Linked DNA regions of Homo sapiens. The protein of the gene in region 1 purifies or fractionates together with the protein of each later gene. This does not show direct contact. Each region holds a gene or a part of one and is shown in the gene's direction. Other genes may lie near its edges.

Region 1 (3,654 bases):
TGACTAGGTTTGATCTAAAAGGAGGATTCTATGCACCTGTGGCAACTGGCACTTAGGCGGTGTCTTGGTGTTAACAGATTTGAATTCACATCTTCTGAGCCTCAAATTGTACTCAGTGGGCGAATACAGGCATGCTTTTGCTTTGGTTCCATAGTATGGTAAGATTAATATTAAGAAAATAGAAGGTATAACTTAATTACCTTTTTTTCTGGGACTGTGAAGAAATCCTTATTGGAGAAGCCCTCAGAGCTCATGTCACATTCATCCTCTTTCCTGTCCCTCACCGGATTCTCTCTCAATCAGGTAGGTGAACAATGAAGAATCCTGCTGTGTGCTTTTAGTGTAGACTGATCATTGTCTTTCTCATACTGTTTCAGTATGTCTGTTTTTTCTTTATTTTCCATGTATTAGTGTATTCCAGATATTTGATTTTATCCCCCTTGTCTCTGATTGGGGCATACTAGTGACTTGTACATCATGAATTAAAACCCTTTAACTTCTCATTAATATTGAAACCCTTAGGGCTCTCTTTTTGAGCCAAATAAATTATTCACATTTTCAACCTGGATAGTTTACACAGAGCAAATTTAAGGGTGAGAGAAAGCAAAGAGGAAAATTAATTTGACTGGAAAATTGAAACAAAAAGAAATAAAAGCCTTCAAAATTTCTCTTCCTAAGAAAAGCTTAAGGTGTACCAAGCATCCATGAACAAGACATTGGATTTTCTCAAATCTCTTTCCTTGGGGTGAGTTTATAACTTCACTGTCATGTCTTTCAGGAAAGATACCCAAATAATAGTATGTTCAATGAGGTATATGGGAAAAACCTGACATCCAGCTCCAAAGCAGAACTCAGTCCCTCAATGGCCCCCCAGGAAACATCTCTGTATTCCCTTTTTGAAGGGACTCCGTGGTCTCCATCACTTCCTGCCAGTTCAGGTATTAACTACTCTTTAAATTATAGACCTTACATTTCCTGTACACTCAGATTGATTAAGGGATAGTGAGATTCTGTAATTACAAATATATCATTTGTTGGGTTATTTTTATTTTTTGTTTGTTTGTTTTTGTAACTTCTGAAAGGAAATAGAAAAAAAAAAAGAAGAAGCCGGTTTATGTAATAAATGCTACTGACAAAACTTTTTACATCCTCAGTAGCCAGCAGAGATGTAAGGGAGAAAATAGAGGTTCTATCTTATGGTTCTCAGCTGCTTTTTAGTTTTATTTGTAGGTGTTCATTCTTTGCAGAAAAATTGCACTTTTTTTTTTGAGACAGTGTCTTGTGGTGTTGCCCACTCTAGACTCAAACTCCTGGGCTCAAGCAGTCCTTCCATCTCAGCCTCCCAAGTAGCTGGGACTACAGGTGCACACCACTGTGCCCAGCTCTGCACTTTTTAAAATTGAGATTTTTAACTTAGAGTCTGACTTAATAGTAATTCTTAAGGTTAGCAAATTCTTTCTGATACATAAGACCAATAAACATGTATCTGAAATAGCCGTGTGAGAATAGGGCATTCATTCAGTTGACAAAAATTGCCTACTATTTTATTTTGCTTTTTTAAGGCGAAGAATATGCCTTAGATATGTGTGGCAGGGCAAATTAGTGCATCTAGCAGATCTCTTTGGAGCCTTTAGTTTCCCTTTCCTTCAAAGCCCTGTGGTTATTGTTAGTAGAATTTTAGTGATCAGATCTACAGGAACCTGTAGTTCTTTGTATGTTTGTGAAACAATGATTTACTATATCCTGTGTTGCTATTATTTAATAGATCATTCAACACCAGCCAGCCAGTCTCCTCATTCCTCTAACCCAAGCAGCCTACCCAGCTCTCCTCCAACACACAACCATAATTCTGTTCCATTCTCCAATTTTGGACCCATTGGGACTCCAGATAACAGGGATAGAAGGACTGCAGATCGGTGGAAAACTGATAAGCCAGGTGAGATCTACATTTCATTGCCAGGCAAAATTGAAAGAATTTACTCTATCCTTCCCTGGGGTCTGGCAATTGGCAGTGATAGAACATCTTCTTGAATTTTTCTTATCTCTTTTCATCCCTTAGCCATGGGTGGGTTTGGCATTGATTATCTCTCAGCAACGTCATCCTCTGAGAGCAGTTGGCATCAGGCCAGCACTCCGAGTGGCACCTGGACAGGCCATGGCCCTTCCATGGAGGATTCCTCTGCTGTCCTCATGGAAAGCCTAAAGGTGAGTAGATTTCAGGAACAAGAACCACAAGATTATTACAGCAAAGGTGTCTCTGCTTTCATTCACATAAATAGCTAGACTTCTCAGGCCCTCGGAGTTGACTGATACATAGCACATATATAACAAAGTCCTAGAAACATGGTCTGCCTTACAAGATTCTTGAGTGATAATTTTTAATTTCTGAATTCACTAGTGGTAAAGCAGTATCTTCAGGAGGACAAAAACAAAGGTTTTAGTTTCATTCTAAGGTTAAGAAAATTCTGATTCATTTTGGAATGTTTGATTTAAGCCTTTTCTGACAAAATAAGAGTATCTAATTTTAGAAATGTTTTATTTGCCTGAAAACTTTATAGTAAATGCCCTGTGTGGTACCACATACAGCTGAGTTTCAGTAAAAAGACTTGACATAAAATGTGATTTCACTTCTTCTGGTTTAAAATAGTCTTAATGGAAACTAACTAGCTTTAAGAGTCTTATAATGACTTTTTCTAATAGCTGGATTTTTATGGGGAGTGGGGTTGGGTTTTGGGGCCATATATATGCCTTTATATTTGGCTGGGATTGAAAAATCCCTTTCAGACAACTTGGCATTTGACCTCTGCTGACAAGATCTGGACTGTTTTTCAGTCTATCTGGTCCAGTTCCATGATGCATCCTGGACCTTCTGCTCTGGAGCAGCTGTTAATGCAGCAGAAGCAGAAACAGCAACGGGGACAAGGCACCATGAACCCTCCACACTGAGGCCAAAGTGGCAACCTGGGAATGAAGGCTCCATAAACCATGGCATGTTGGGTTTGCAGGACTGGCCCACACAGTCCCCTGCAGGTGGCAGCCCTCTTTTCTGTTTCTCGCTGTCAAGAGGGTGTAAGTATTCCACCAGCCCGCTGAGTGTGCACGAAATGTTCGCAGTGCAACAAAAAGAAAAATCCATCAGGAACTCTCCGTCCCCCCGGGGCCCTCCGGAGGGAGAGAGAGAGGAACTGCTGTTTATCTCACTCAGTTACTTGGTATCACCGCCTCTCACCTTCTCCATCGTGCATGTCCCCAGCCACATGGGAAGTGAAAGCTGAGAAGGGAAGGCAGATGGGAGAAGCCAATGGGAACTTCTCAGTCCTTTTTTCCTCTTTGGGGAATAAAATAGGAATCCATTAATGATTGCTTTGCTGACTGAGAATGTAGTTGAAATTATTCTTAAACATCTTTTATTATTATTACTCTCAGTAGTAAAATATCACACTGAATTCTTCCATACACAGGTGTGCTTCTAGTCAGTGTGTAGCAAGGAAAGCCCCGTTCACTGCTCCTGTGAGAGGTTGGTGGTGACAGGATGGGGAACCGACCTCTTCAGCCAGTGGAAATGTTCCATAAGGGAGAGTTCAAGGCCTGTCAGAAGGCTCTGGTAGGCCTTCCTCTGGCCAGGAGACTCCAGCAGGGAATGCCCTTCACTCT
Region 2 (3,654 bases), on another chromosome or scaffold:
TGAGAACAGCCCTTTCAAGGTGGTGGTCAAGTCAGGCCGCAGCTACGTGGGCATTGGGCTCCCGGGCCTGAGCTTCGGCAGTGAGGGTGACAGCGATGGCAAGCTCTGCCGCCCTTGGGGTGTGAGTGTAGACAAGGAGGGCTACATCATTGTCGCCGACCGCAGCAACAACCGCATCCAGGTGTTCAAGCCCTGCGGCGCCTTCCACCACAAATTCGGCACCCTGGGCTCCCGGCCTGGGCAGTTCGACCGACCAGCCGGCGTGGCCTGTGACGCCTCACGCAGGATCGTGGTGGCTGACAAGGACAATCATCGCATCCAGATCTTCACGTTCGAGGGCCAGTTCCTCCTCAAGTTTGGTGAGAAAGGAACCAAGAATGGGCAGTTCAACTACCCTTGGGATGTGGCGGTGAATTCTGAGGGCAAGATCCTGGTCTCAGACACGAGGAACCACCGGATCCAGCTGTTTGGGCCTGATGGTGTCTTCCTAAACAAGTATGGCTTCGAGGGGGCTCTCTGGAAGCACTTTGACTCCCCACGGGGTGTGGCCTTCAACCATGAGGGCCACTTGGTGGTCACTGACTTCAACAACCACCGGCTCCTGGTTATTCACCCCGACTGCCAGTCGGCACGCTTTCTGGGCTCGGAGGGCACAGGCAATGGGCAGTTCCTGCGCCCACAAGGGGTAGCTGTGGACCAGGAAGGGCGCATCATTGTGGCGGATTCCAGGAACCATCGGGTACAGATGTTTGAATCCAACGGCAGCTTCCTGTGCAAGTTTGGTGCTCAAGGCAGCGGCTTTGGGCAGATGGACCGCCCTTCCGGCATCGCCATCACCCCCGACGGAATGATCGTTGTGGTGGACTTTGGCAACAATCGAATCCTCGTCTTCTAATTGCATTTCCTAGGTTTCTGTGTTTGGGGTGTGTGTGCGTGTCTCTCTCTCTCTCTCTCTCTTTCTCTTTCTCTCTCTTTTTGAATTTCAAAGAAGAAACAGTCTCAGGGAAATTTCTTTTTTCTTTTTTTTTTTTAAAGAGAACAAGAAAAGTACAACATTGCTTAAGTCCTACCTCATCTTTATTTTTTTACAGATGAATGTACTTATCTTTTCTGCAGGGATTGAGCCTGTGAAGTGATAATTTCTATCTACCTCATAAATCTTTACATTTCCTTCTGCAACAGGCCCTCTTCCCCTCCTCAGTGGAGTTTGCATTTCCCTCTTCCCCTGCGTGGGGCATGATATGCACAAGCCTGGCATCTGTATGGCTGGGAGGGCACTGGATGTGTGTGGTGGGGTGTATTCTGTAGATTGAGCCAAGGAAACACAAAAAAAAACTACTAAGTAAAAAAACAAAAAACTATAAAACATGGAAAAAATAGGATTTGAAATGCATAATTATAGAATACCTGTGTTCTTGAGAATACTGTTTATATGGGGTTTAGATTATGTTGTGTTGTTTTGATCTTTTTGGAAAATCTTCTCTTTTTAAATGCTGCAACAGAGAAATTTCCTCTGTTCTCTGTTTATACCTCAGTGTGTTTAACATCCTCTTCTGCATCGTTTCTTGATCTTAGACGTTGTGGCTGTGGCTTGCTAGCCAAGAAAAGCAGACCCTTCATATTTTAGGGTATATAATCTTTGTTTCTTTTAAGGGAGGGTGTGTGCATGTTTGTTTCAAAGCCATCTTGCACCCAAGTAGTAAAGCTGAAAATGACACACTGCCTCCCAAAGAACCTCTCCTTTTCACACTTTGGTTTCTTAAAAAAGTATATAGATGGTAGCTCAGGATTTTTGATTAAACATATTCTCAAAAGTTATGCTTTCTTATTTTGCTGTTAGGTTATAAAGGGTTAAATGGAAGGAAAAAGGAAATTAACCTCGTTCTCAGAGAGAGGGTTTTCAGGCATGGGCTGACGTGGACATGAATGTGGGTGGACATGCGTGTGCTGAGGGAGTCAGGGAGCACATTAAAGAACAAGGCACCCCCAAACTATAGGAACTCCACAGAAAGGGCAGGGTCTGCCCTGACCCGCGAGTGCATGTTGTTCTGTAGTGCTAGGGGTTTCTTTTCCTAAGAAGAGTAGGCAAAGGAAAGAACTTTTATTTTACAAGCACAATTTTTTCCTGCTTTGAAAGTTCAGGGAAATAGAAGGTTTGAAAGTCAAATTAATACCAACAGCCCAGTCCCACACCCTCTGCTTGGGTCACTTTTTATAGGATTGTTTGCACCCAGGCCATGCTTTAGGACCTCATGGTTAACATGAATCCCCCCGCCCCCTCTCCCCCCAAGGCCTTTGACCATAAAGGATCTAGAAACCAAATTGTCCCAACCTGAAATGTAGGATGTAATGTCTTTTCTTAAACCTGTAACTCGGTACCAAAGAATGAAAATTTAAGGCTCCCACTGCAGAACTGTGGGGTAGAATCTGTGTCACTTTACAGGATTGGTTGGTTGTAAGCTGGACTTGGGTACAAAACTTGTGCTTCTGGGCATTGTCTGTCTTTCAAGTGCAAAGCAGATGTAGCTGATACCCTGCTTGTCAGAACCCAGTGGGTTCCTGCAATGCCCCAAATACTGAAATAAGAACCAAATTCTGGAGGAGCCCTCCTCAGGGAAAAGAGGGACTCTCAAACAAACGTCAGTGACTTACAAGGGAGACCTCTTGTTTAAAGACTTATGGATCAACTTCTGTTCCTCTGTTTAAGAGAAATTTCTATTGCAAAATGGGTATCGTTTTAAATGAGCAGAACAGATTAACAAATGGAGCAATTTGTTTCTGTTATCCCAATAGAAAAGGAGATGATGGGGACAGTGTGACAAGTCAATCAAGTTGCTTTTCCCGTACACCTCTTTTGGACGTTTAATTTACTACTACTACAAGCTACTCTGTCTCTTCCCATTGCTTTAATTCTAGGGTTTCTGAGTGACCAAAATGGGAAGGAAAAAAAAAACCTCATCTCACAGAGGAGAACTGCATGCAATAAAAGATTCAAAAGTTGGAAAGTAGCTTCAAACTGCTGCTGGCTCCCAGCTGCTGTTACAGGGTGGGAAGGTGTTAGGAAATGTTGTTTGTTAGAAGCTCCTTTTACTGTAGAATTTAATAGTGAATCCTTCCCCAATGCCTATTCAGTTGCCTTTTGGCCGTTAAGCTCTAAGTTCTTTGGTAAAGAGTTAATATAATTAAACATTTTTACTGTTTTCTATTTTGGAGTAACTTGGTGCTGATCTTCCTTCCCTTTCCCCAGCTGCCCAACAAGCCACCCTTTAAACACCAAAGACAACTGGTTTTAAATGCTTGAAAAAAATTTTATTGAGGAGATGGATCTTGATTAAAATCTTTTCATCATCATTTTCATTCTGCTCTTTTCTTTCTAATTTCCCCAGATGTAGGAAAATTTTGGGACCTGAATGAGAAATGTTCTTGGTGCATAACAGTAACTAGAGCTCCTTATTTGACATTTTACTATGGATGTGATCGAAAAGCCAAGATTTTCGCTCCATGGCTGAAATTATCAGGTCTTAATTTACAGACTTGTAAATTTGCAGGCTTAGAGCAACTAGAACTATCCCCTGAAATAGGTGTGTAGGTCAGAGATACTACCTCTTTGTCCTCAGTGGTGGTATATCTATCTCCTTACCTTTCTGTACCCAA
Region 3 (3,654 bases), on another chromosome or scaffold:
CATGGGCAGTGACATAGAGGCAAGAGTGAACATCCATTTCAGGGAGAGGGAGGAGACCGAATGGAGCAGGAGGAATACCATTACAAGCTAATGTGTATCTTGTTTTCAGTAGCAGGCACTTTGTGAGAAGCTTTACCTGTATTATTACATTTAATCCTTAAAACAACCCTAACAGATAGGTTTTATTATTTTCTCTAGGCATCTCAAAGAAAACTAAGAGAAATAAGGTTGTTGGGAATGGGTTTGATCAAAGAAACAAAGGGAATGTTAATTCCAGATACAAATGGAGAATGTTTTGGATTCTTGGCTAGGAAAATGATCGTAAGAGCAACACTGTAGGTATATTGATCTATAATAATAGTAGTGACTTGGGAAAACTTAGTGGCTCTTTGAGAAAATAAAGTTAACTGCTTTGACCTGTTTTTCTCATCGTGAGTTCTTCTGAAGCATAGATAAGCAATTGGAGAATAAGCCGATTGCTTTTGGGGTGATTGAAATTAACATTGAATCAGCCTAAATTGACTTCTCTTGGCTTGAGAGGTCTTTGACTGAAGTGCCAAAGCAATAATATTGGTGTAAATGACAGCTCAATACCTATAATAAGTCATCAGTTTACGGAGTTTTGACTTTGTGTCTTAAACTCAATTTGCTTATCTCATCGCTTTACTGAGTCTCTGAATCAGTTTCATTCTAGTGCTGGGAGCAGACTTCTCTTTGTTTGTTCTCTCTTAGATCTTTGCTATTTTGGGGATGTGGAAGAGGACTAGGGATTGAATTTCTGTTTCAAAGAGTTACGTTTTGTATTTTCAACAATTATAGATAGTTGAGAAATTAGCTATAATTAGGTATTAATTTTCTATAGTCGGTACAGAAGTGTCAAAGTATTTGCTAAACTGTTACCTAATTATTAGTAGTTGCTCTTTTTATGTTAACAGTAAACTTAATGTAACAACATATTTAGTGTTTTCAGTGATGTTAATCCAATTGGAATATTGTTAGTATTTTCAATGACCCTAAAACTTTTTACTTTTGAAGGGCTTATAATTATAGTTAAGTGATATTAATTTTGATTAAAATTTTGACCACTTAAGAACTTCACCATTTTTCTTATAATAACAATATTAAGGGCATACTATATACCATTATTTTTGTTTTGTGTAGTGATGCTGGAAATAGTGACCGAGTAGTCATTCAGGAGATGTTGAAAACAGTGGCACAATCACAACAACTTGAAACAAACTCTCAAAGGGATTTTAAAGGTAGGTGATCAAAAGACTTCTTTTTATGAAGCTGCCAAGCATTAGTGCTCTCTCTTTTTTTTGAGTTATGAAAGTGAACAGGAGAGAAGCCTGATCTCTGGGCTCATGGGAGTTTATAGTCTAATGGAATTGAATTTTATGTGAAAGAGGATTATTTGTGCCATCCATTTGATATTTTAGAACAAGATGAATAAAAATACGTGATTTAAAATCAGAAATTACATGATTTTAAAATAATTGTTCTTATGACCGAGTCATATGTTCATTATCAGATATTTAGATAAAAAAGAAAATAATATCAGCTATATTCCCACCATCCAGAGACAGCTACTAATAACAGTTTAGACTTTACCATCCAAGCATTTTTTTCTATATATATGGATACATTCTTACTGGTGAGATTTTGTGATAATAAATATGCCATCATTTAATGCTTTTGATATATTTTGCCAAATTCTCTATCTGAAAGAGGGTATAGATTTATACTACCAATAGCAGTGTTTGGGAGTGCTCATTTCTCCGTGACATTTACCAACACTGAGGATAATTTGTTTTAATCTTTGTCAGTTTGAGTGGAGAAGATAGTGTTTTGTTCTTCTTTAGTGAGTGTGATAAATTTTTCCTTTATTGCTCATTTTTATTGTTTTGTGAATTCGCTGTACATATTCTCAGCTGATTTCTTTCCTCAGTCTCCATATTTCAAAATAAATTTACATTTATGAATTTATTTTTTGCTACTATATATGGAGTCTTATATTTTCTGAATGTTTTATATATGTGAGTTACTAACATATCCTACTTTTATATCTTGCTATGTTATTAAATTCTCTTACTGTTTTTAATTGTATTTTGGTAGTTTGAGTTTTTTTAGATGTATATTAATGTAATCTGTAAATTGTTTTTCCTTTTTCCAATTTTTATGGCTCTAAATACTTTTTCTTCTCTAATTATGTTGGCCAACCCTCCAATAGTGTGGTTAATAGTAATAGAGATAGCAGATGTCCATGTCATGACTCTGGAAGTAAAGCCTTAGTGTTTCCCCATAATTAATTGCTGGATTTTGGTCTGAGGTGTATGTATTTGATCATGGTAAGAAAATATTCTCAAGTTCCTATTTTATTGAGTGTCTTTAACACAAATGTGTGTTAAATATTGTCTGATGCTTCTTTTTCATCCATGAATATGCTTTTATGATTTTTCTTTAGTTCATTAATATCATAGGTTATATTACTGGATTTTCTAATATTAAAACTTTTGCTAGGCACAGTGGCTTATGCTAGCAATCCCAGTGCTTTGGGAGGCTGAAGCAGGAGGATTGCTTGAGCCCAGGAATTCAAGGTTGCAGTGAGCTGTGATTGCACTACTGTACTCCAGCCAGGGTGACAGAGCGAGACTATATCTCCAAAAAAAGGCAAAACAAAACTGTTCTGCATTTCTAGAGTAAACATGACTTGTCATGTTGAATTTGCTGTTTTCTGCCTACCAAGTACTGCTTAGTCACTGTTTCAAACATCACTATACAAAATAATGATATGTGTATGTAAATATAGGAAATATTGTGCCATTATCCTCAATCTGTTATTAATATTATAAGAGAAATGTTGAACATCGGTTATTATAAGAAATTTAGTTGAAATTTAAAATTTTAATCAAAATTAATAATACCTGATTACAATTACAAACCTTTAAAAGTGAAATGTTGTAGGGTCATTAAAAATGTGAACAATATTTTACCACCCAATTACAGTTGAATTAACCTATTCTTACATGAAGCTTACTGTTACTTAAAAAGAACAATAACTATGAATTAAGTAACAGTTTAGGAAATAATTTGTCTCTTTCATATCCATAAAGATGTTATTCTGCTCCTCTGCTCGTCTTTCTTGCATAACTGTTGAAATTTGGCCATGATCCTTTTGTGTTGGTCATTTTGTTAAAAGTAAAGTGATTTTTCCTGTACTTAGGGAAGGAGAGGAAGGCCAGAGAGTTTTTTTTAGGTCTGGGGCTCTACAGCTACCTCTTGTATTATTTTTACAAAGTGATAAAAAATATATGACACTTTACTTAAGGCCAGGAAATTGAGACCAACAAGACCCGATCTTGCCAAAGGAAGAAAAAAAAAAAATTAGGCTCATGCCTGTAGTCTTAGCTACTTGGGAGCTGAGGTGGGAAGATTGCTTGAACCCAGGAGTTTGGGATTGCAGTGAGCCATGATCAAGCTACTGCACTCCCGCCTGGGTGACAGAGTGAGACCCTGTCTCTAAAAAAATAAAATAAAAAAATAAAGTAAATAAATGACCTTGTGTTCTGAGCTCTATTCCCTATCTTATTTTCTGTCACCTTTATTGGGATTCTTTCCTTTGTCTCTCTTTTACCTGTTCTCAATTTGGTCTGG

The links.
Region 2: the proteins of SMG7 (region 1) and TRIM71 purify together in Homo sapiens (affinity purification with western blotting, with the first as the bait; one study listed by BioGRID). This does not show direct contact.
Region 3: the proteins of SMG7 (region 1) and RFC3 purify together in Homo sapiens (affinity purification with mass spectrometry, with the first as the bait; one study listed by BioGRID). This does not show direct contact.

Annotation. Positions count from the first base shown.
Region 1 is NC_000001.11:183,548,986-183,552,639, forward strand, and holds part of SMG7 (nonsense-mediated mRNA decay factor SMG7), read left to right. Parts: intron 1-222; coding exon 223-303; intron 304-778; coding exon 779-938; intron 939-1,765; coding exon 1,766-1,936; intron 1,937-2,059; coding exon 2,060-2,205; intron 2,206-2,832; coding exon 2,833-2,946; 3' UTR 2,947-3,654. UniProt on the Homo sapiens protein: Plays a role in nonsense-mediated mRNA decay. Recruits UPF1 to cytoplasmic mRNA decay bodies.
Region 2 is NC_000003.12:32,890,917-32,894,570, forward strand, and holds part of TRIM71 (E3 ubiquitin-protein ligase TRIM71), read left to right. Parts: coding exon 1-895; 3' UTR 896-3,654.
Region 3 is NC_000013.11:33,824,628-33,828,281, forward strand, and holds part of RFC3 (replication factor C subunit 3), read left to right. Parts: intron 1-1,161; coding exon 1,162-1,259; intron 1,260-3,654. UniProt on the Homo sapiens protein: Subunit of the replication factor C (RFC) complex which acts during elongation of primed DNA templates by DNA polymerases delta and epsilon, and is necessary for ATP-dependent loading of proliferating cell nuclear antigen (PCNA) onto primed DNA.